Homo sapiens: one gene and its partner. The protein of the gene in region 1 purifies or fractionates together with the protein of each later gene. This does not show direct contact. Each region holds a gene or a part of one and is shown in the gene's direction. Other genes may lie near its edges.

Region 1 (4,039 bases):
CATCCTGAACCGGACAGAGACGGAAGCCACACTGCTGCAGAAGCTCACCACCCAGTGCCTGACCAAGCAGGTGGCCCTGCAGAGCCAGTTCAATACCTACAGGCTCACCCTGCAGGACACAGAGGATGCCCTCAGCCAGGACCAGCTGGTGAGGCCGGGCCCGCCCCACAGGTCACACCTGGCGCACGGTGGTGCCTCTTCAGGCACGTGCACCCTGTGGCTCCTTGTCTCCAGGAACAAATGATACTCACGGAGGAGTTGCAGGCCATCCGCCAAGCCATCCAGGGCGAGCTGGAGCTCAGGAGGAAGACGGATGCTGCCATCCGGGAGAAGCTGCAGGAGCACATGACCTCCAACAAGACCACCAAATACTTCAACCAGCTCATCCTGAGGCTGCAGAAGGAGAAGACCAACATGGTAGGCCCCTGCCCCAGGGAGGGGCTGTGCGAAGCCCCCTGCAGCCTGGGCATATGAGGGCAAGCCGTCCTGGAGGCGGAGAGGGCGGAGTCAGTGTGAGCAGAGGGCCCTCCTGTGCTCACTCCTTTCCATGGTGTTCAGGTTGTAAGGGTGATACATTTTTACTGTAGAAAACCTAGAAATAGGCCAGGCGTGAGCCACCGCATGGCCAGCTGCCAGCCAAAGGCTGATTTCCCTGGGGGGACCTGGAGTGTGACTTCGACGTCCATGGCAGGGAACCCCCAATTGTGAGCTCATGTTCGCATCCCCTGGGATCTTGCTTTATCCTTTATCACCTGTGGTGGGGGTGGAGGGGACTTGTGTCCTTAGAAAAAACAATTCCTTACTTGAATTGTTTTTTCTTTGCCTCTTCCCGAGGGGTGACCGCCTCCCCAACACCCCGCCTCAAGCAGGCCCCTTTGGAGGACCCCCAGAGGCTACCACAGGCTCCACCATTTCCAGAGCACATCCTAGCAGTGGGGCCTGCCCAACAGTCCCCATTTTAGTCTCAGAGGAGGGTGACAGATTCCCGATGCCAAGCTCTGCCGGTTTTGCCCTCCTGAGGGGTGGGAAAGGAGCTGGCCAGGCAGAGCTGAAGGGCGTGGTGGGTGTGAAGGAGCCCATCCAGCCGTGCTGCTACCAGCCAAGTCCAGTTCCCAATCCCCAGGCCCCCGGGCCCCCGCCGAGCCCCTGTCTGGGCAGCCCGATAGGTCATACGTGTTTTGCTGCCAGTTTCCAGAAGAGGGCAGCAAAGAGTCTTGGACCAACACATTCGTCTATTACGACAATTTTCCAACCGATGCCAGTCCAGCTGCTGAAAAGAGTACCCCCGACACGATGTTTGAACTGCTCAAAGCCTCATGGGCTGATAGAAGGTGGGGTGGGGAGGCATATCTGGGAGGAGGAGCAAAGTGTGGATGGGCGGGACCACCCATCCGGAGCTGGGGTCAACCACGGGGTCCAGGCAGTTAATCCAGGGATGGTGTAGATGCCTAGGGGGAGCCAGGGTGGGCTCCACAGAGACCACAAACAGCCAGGAGTGGAGCGGGGGTGCAGGCCCGGCTGTGACGGGGAGGGACTGAAGGGGACTTGGAGCCATAGCCCCTGCAGGGCAGTTGGGGAGGGGGGAGGCAGGGAGTCCTTGGGGGGCCCAGATCTCAGGGTGAACTTGGCAGAGGAGGAGGCTGCGAGCTGACATTGCCACACAACTCCAGATGCCGGAAGCTTCCACTCCAGGTGGGCAGGGTCTGGGTTCCACCACCTGGGGACATTGGGTCTCCTGGGAAGCCGCCCGTGGTGGCCAGTGAGAGACATGGAGCCCACAGGCGTGGCGGGAGGAGAAGCTCAGATGGCCCTGAGGAGGCTGGGGTAGGCAGGAGCCACAGTCGTGAGAGAGCCAAGGCCTTGTGTGGCAGGAGCCGACGGGCAGGGGTGCTCAGGGCAGACACAGGGCCCGAGGCCACCTGTTAGAACCATGCCCTGGGGAAGAGGACCCTGTCCTGGTGGTGACAGCATCTCCCTGTTCCCAGAGCAGCTTTGGCCACACCATTGCAGCTGTGACTGCCACTGCCTCACTCCTGATTATCACAAACGTCCTCTCGATAAACCCCCCGTTGCCAGAAGGGATCCAAAGTCTGTCTAATGCCTCCAAAGAGCCCACAGAGGAGGCCAGCACTGGCGGCTCAGACCTGCCGGACAGCAGGAGGGGTCAGAACGCATGGAGGAACCAGTGTCTAACAATTGCTTCTTGCTTCATAAACTATGCTGCAAATGTGATAGAGTACAGCACAGCCATTACAGCTTACAGAGCACAGGAACATAAGACCCGACTTACCAGATTAAAAAGCAGGTTAGCACCCAGTGTGTAGGGTGTGATCCTATTTTTATTTTGGAGAATTATATAGAAAAGACTGGGAGGAAAAATGGATTCAGATGGGAATGGTAGCTAACTTGTGTCAGAATTGCAGGCAATTGAATGTGTTCTCTGTCCTGGCCTGTATTTTCACATTTCCTCACAATGTGTGTGCTACGATTTAAGAAGTGTGTTAGTCTGATCTCACACTGCTGTAGGAAATACCTAAGACTGGATAACTGATAAAGGAAAGAGGTTTAATTGACTGACAGTTCTGCATGGCTGGGGAGGCCTCAGGAAACTTACAATCATGGCAAAAGGCGAAACAGGCACCTCCTTCACAAGGCAGCAGGAGAGAGAGTGTGTGTGAAGCAGGAACCGTCAAACACACAAAACCATCAGATCTCATGAGAACTCACTATCATGAGAACAGCATGGGGGTAGCGGCCCCCATGGTCCAGTCACCTCCCACAGGGGCCCTCCCTTGACATGTGGGATTATGGGGACACAATTCAAGATGAGATGTGAGTGGGGACACAGCCAAACCACATCAATAAGAAAAGCTAATACCATGATCTCTCTTTTCTGTAAAAAGCCAACATCTGGGTTCCAACAAGTAGGTCCCTTGCTGGGTCCTGGAGACAGTGGGAAATCCAGCCTCCTGCACTCGTGACTGTGCGTTTGGAATATCTCCAGAGGAACATCCCGACCGTCAGGGAACGGTGGATCAGCAAACTCGTCCCGGGCCTTGGGTGGGGGCAATATTCACAGGTATTTCTTTTCATCAATTCAGATGACACATCTTTCCAAAATCAACGGTGACATTGCCCAGACCACCCTGGACATCACACACACCAGCAGCAGGCTGGACGCACACCAGAAGACCCTGGTGGAGCTGGACCAGGACGTGAAGAAAGTCAACGAGCTCATCACCAACAGCCAGAGCGAGATCTCCCGGCGCACGATCCTGATCGAGAGGAAGCAAGGGCTCATCAACTTCCTCAACAAGCAGCTGGAGCGGATGGTCTCCGAGCTGGGGGTGAGGTCCCAGGCAGGGAGACGTGGTCCCCGGCTGACTGTGGTGCCTGGTGGGGCAGAGCCCCCTCAGATCCCCCACGGTCAGACATGAACTCCTGGAAGGCACAGAACTGCCTCTTTCCCTACCTGCTTTACAGACAAAATGGCACGTGTGCCAAGCGCTCTAAGTCACATTTTTCTGCACAAGGCCAGAGAGTATTCCGGCTTTGTGGCCAGTTGGTCTCTCTGGCAGTGACACGGCTCTGCCTCCATAGCGAGAAGGAGCATAGGTAAAACGTAAAGGAATGGGCACGGCTGTGTCCAATCAGATGTTATTCAAGGCCACTGAAGTCTGAATTCCAAATAATTTTCACCCAGCACGAAATATTCTGCTGCTCTAAGAAAAGTGGCCTAATGCGTTTGAGGCCTGATGCCATATACGTCATCCAGGTCCCTGTACTCTCAAAGCCCCTTTGGGTTCCAGAGGCCCCACCCACCCTGCCAGCGCACCCACCATGGGGAAGCTAGAGGGGGCTCCAGAGCCCCTTAGCCATATTTCCTCCAGCGGGGTCTGTGGCTTGCGGCCCTGCTGAGAGCTAACTTGAGCCCCTCGGCCTTCGTCCAGTTTCATGACCTCAGGGTTCCAGGCCCTCTGCAGCCCACTCACAAAGACCTTTGAGCCCAAGAAGGCTAATTTTGCTTTTTTTTTTTTTT
Region 2 (3,921 bases), on another chromosome or scaffold:
CCTTCTTCAAGAGCAGAAGTGGAAGTTGTATTGCATTTTTAAAAATTAAATAATATATCAGCTTAGAAAAAAGCACAGATAATTTTCATCTGTGTTGACCTCTTAAGTATGAGAAAATAGTTATGAGAAGAATGAAGGAAAATTGATATAAAGGTAAAAATAGTAGTTACTGATAAAACAATTTGATTTCAACAAAGTCTGTTCACTCAGTTAGCTGTTACCGAGATTCTTACTATTGGTGCCTGTGTGGAAGGATAAATAAAAATGAGGGGGTATTTCTGTATCTGTTGGTAGCTTGATTTTTTTTTCGTAGTTGGTATTCTTCATCTTTTTTTTTAAGGGAGTTCTATTTTCTGTGGCCTTCTAAATTGCCTCGTCTGGTGTTAGGTTGGTGCCAGTGCTGGCTTCCATAGTGCTCCTGACTCAATACTCTAGAAGCTTGCCTTTACCTTCCTTTTATCTTTGATTAGTTTCCACATTTAGTCCGTTGGACATTTAGTAAGTATTCCGTGGGAGTCAGATTGGCTTTGGCTGATTGTCAGTTGCTTTCGTTAGAGGTCTTTTCAGTTGTGTGTACATGCAGACATGATTATCCATATCTTCAGTGTTTTGATTCTATTGCATATTTTTTCTATGTAATTCTAACATATATTTTATGTTATAAGCCCAGGGCCAGGACTAGGGTAAGGAGAGAGGTGCCCAGAACACAGAATTTAAAGAGACACTCACTATGAAGGTCCTGTGAGCCAACCCTTTGCTGGAATGACTCTGAAAGTGAGCACCTCCTTAAATTTTGTGCCTGAGGCACCTCTCTTGCCTCACCCTAGTTCTGTTTCTATATAACCCTGACAATAGCTGGTAATAGACACCTATAGAGCCAGTACCTTAAAATGAACTCACATAATCACTTCCATTTAGAACAAGTTTTGACTTCATCTAAGAAAACAGAGGTGAGATACTATTTCAGAAAAATCAATGCCATACCTGAAATAATTAAAACAGTCCAAAGTTTATCCATCAGCAACATTAGCCAGAATTTTGGATCATATTATTTAGGTTACCCATAGCATGTCACTGTTGTACTTAGGTTCCATTATTTCTTATCATGACATGACTTGTCATTAGGAAGTTCTTTCTAGCAGAATTGCTCTCGTGGTTAAAATTTTTGGTAATCTTGACTACCACTCTGGCTGATACTATGATATGCAAAACCATTTGACTTTGGCAAATGATTGGTTAAAGAATGAATGTGCCTATTAACTGCATGAGGTTCAGAGTACTCAGTCTGTGTTGCTGCCAGTTTGCTGGGGAAACTGTTCTTCTGGTCCCACAGTTCTCACATTGCTACCTGTTCTTCTGGTCCCACAGTTCTCACATTGTCCCTGAGAAATACCTTGGAGGTGAGTGGGAGGTCATCAGGTATTGGGACTCTGCCCTCTTCCTCCCAACTTGCCACTTCCCTGCATATGCTTCCACCAGAATACCTCTTTTTTTGTTTTTGTTTTTGTTTTTGTTTTCCTGTTTATGAAGTGACATTCTGTGTAAAAGGTCTCCATGGCAGGAACTCATTGAGAAGGAGAACAATTAATGAATGTGGAGCAGTATTTCTAGAACCTAAAATATCCGAAGACAAAAAACACTCTCTTTCACTTCCTTTGTTCCACTCACTAGATGGCTTTCTCACCCTCTTAAAAACTCGTCTTCAAAATAACCTCAAATGTTGGTTCTCAGGGCTCTTTATGGAGCAGTAGTCTCTGTTTTTATTTCATCTGAAAATGTTTTCATTCTTTGTTTTTAGATGCCAGTGAGAGCAGGTGCCAGCAGGGGAAGACACAATTTGGAGTTGGCCTGAGATCTGGGGGAGAAAATCACCTCTGGCTTCTTGAAGGAACCCCCTCTCTCCAGTCATGTTGGGCTGCCTGCTGCCAGGACTCTGCCTGCCATGTCTTTTGGTGGCTAGAAGGGATGTGCATTCAGGCAGACTGCAGCAGGCCCCAGAGCTGCCGGGCTTTTAGGACACACTCCTCCAATTCCATGCTGGTGTTTTTAAAAAAATTCCAAACTGCAGATGATTTGGGCTTTCTACCTGAAGATGATGTACCACATCTTCTGGGGCTAGGTTGGAACTGGGCATCTTGGAGGCAGAGCCCACCCAGAGCTGCACTCAGACCTGCTGTATCTTCCAGTGACCAGCAGAGCTTAATCAGGAAGCTTCAGAAGAGAGGTAGTCCCAGTGACGTAGTTACACCTATAGTGACACAGCATTCTAAAGTGAATGACTCCAACGAATTAGGTGGTCTGACTACCAGTGGCTCTGCAGAGGTAAGCATGCTATGAATAAGGAGCAGAGAAATGGTTAAATCTGCTCTTACATTTGGTATATATGAGCAATGAAGCTGATGCTTGCGGGCAGTGCTCATAGGCTGAGGAGTGTATATATAAAGCTGCTTGGTGTCAGCTTCTTTGGTGCTGCCCAGATGTACAAAGGGTAATTTGACCCTAGAGATGTTCATGCTATGTAGGTCTGACCATTGTTTTGGTAAATGCAGAAAGCTGCTCATTATCTAGTCTAAGCTGGTTCTTGGCTACAGGTAAGTACAGTTGTATGGCTGTTAGTATTCACCAACCATTCTGCAGTATTTTCTGCCAAATTGCAAAACAGTTGATTGATGTGGTTACAGTCAAGTTCTCCTCCATCTCTCGCCTGTAAACACATTCTTTATGAGGTAGTTTCTATTCCAGTCAGAATTAACCATGCTTGGTACTACAGATTAAGATCTGACCTGCTGGGCTGTGGAGCAGGATGTGGCCATTAGCCAAGAGGTCTCTGGAGTGAATTCTCACCAAGCTGTATATGCCAAGGGAGATACCACCAGTAGAGTTTATTCTGCTTATTATGTTTCTTCATTGTTGATCTCCTTGGGGAAATGATTAAAAGGAATGACTCACTCTCTGCTCAGTCTTCCTTGATTGCTGTGACTTATTTTTGTATTTGTTTTGTCCTAGTTGTCTCTATCAAGTTGAAGCCAGAGTGGGCTATGACATGCCAAGCGCTCTGTGTACTAATTGTTGCACTGTATCATTTTGTTTAATTTTCATAGCAATATTTCCAAGTAGGCATTATTAGCCCTGTTTACCTGGTGAGAAAACTGAGGCCCAGAGAGGTTAAACAGTTTGCCAGTGATCATGCAGCATAGCTAGAATTGGAACCCAGATTTAATATTAAGAAAAAAACTTTTTAGTGCAGTATTAGAGAACAATCCTAGATTTAATATGCCCATAAACATTTATGGCTACCTACTGTCAATGTCAGGCACTTTTCTAAGCCTTAGAGATACAAAGGTGAATAAGAATGGTTCATTCCCTCAGGGAGTTTATAATCTAGTGGAGACTGATACATGAAGATAGGTATTTACAGTGGTGTATAATTATTGCATTAACATACTTATGTACACAATGCAGTAAGAACACAAGAAGTGATTCACTTCAGCAGGCAAGTGGTGTGTATGTGCAGGTAAGACTTCTCCGAGATGTTTAACATTTCTTGAAGGATGTGTAGGATTGTACTGGGGTGGGGTTAATGGTGGTAAAAAAACATTCTGGACAGAGCCACAGTGTATGTAAAGGCTCGGTCATAGTCATTGTGTATTTACTTGCGAGGTACTATACTAAGCTGGATACTGGGAATATTACAATAAATAAGATGAATATCATTTCTGCCTTAACAAGGCTTATACTCTGGCAAGGAATATTACATTTCTAATAATTAAATTATTATAATAATTATAAGCTTGATGTGGGTAATGAGAGGGTAAATACAGAGTGCCGTGAAAGCATCCAACAGGCACCTAATACAAACTAAGGTGTCAGGTTAGGCCACTTTAAAGAAAGAAAGTTTAAGCTGATATTTGAAGTAGGAAT

Evidence for each region. Proteins that work in one complex are often made in the same cells at the same time.
Region 2: the proteins of CCDC40 (region 1) and KIAA0319L purify together in Homo sapiens (affinity purification with mass spectrometry; 2 studies listed by BioGRID and IntAct, with this or other methods). This does not show direct contact.

The regions. Positions count from the first base shown.
Region 1 is NC_000017.11:80,081,642-80,085,680, forward strand, and holds part of CCDC40 (coiled-coil domain-containing protein 40), read left to right. Parts: coding exon 1-148; intron 149-234; coding exon 235-417; intron 418-3,101; coding exon 3,102-3,347; intron 3,348-4,039. UniProt on the Homo sapiens protein: Required for assembly of dynein regulatory complex (DRC) and inner dynein arm (IDA) complexes, which are responsible for ciliary beat regulation, thereby playing a central role in motility in cilia and flagella.
Region 2 is NC_000001.11:35,505,013-35,508,933, reverse strand, and holds part of KIAA0319L (dyslexia-associated protein KIAA0319-like protein), read left to right. Parts: intron 1-1,798; coding exon 1,799-2,322; intron 2,323-3,921.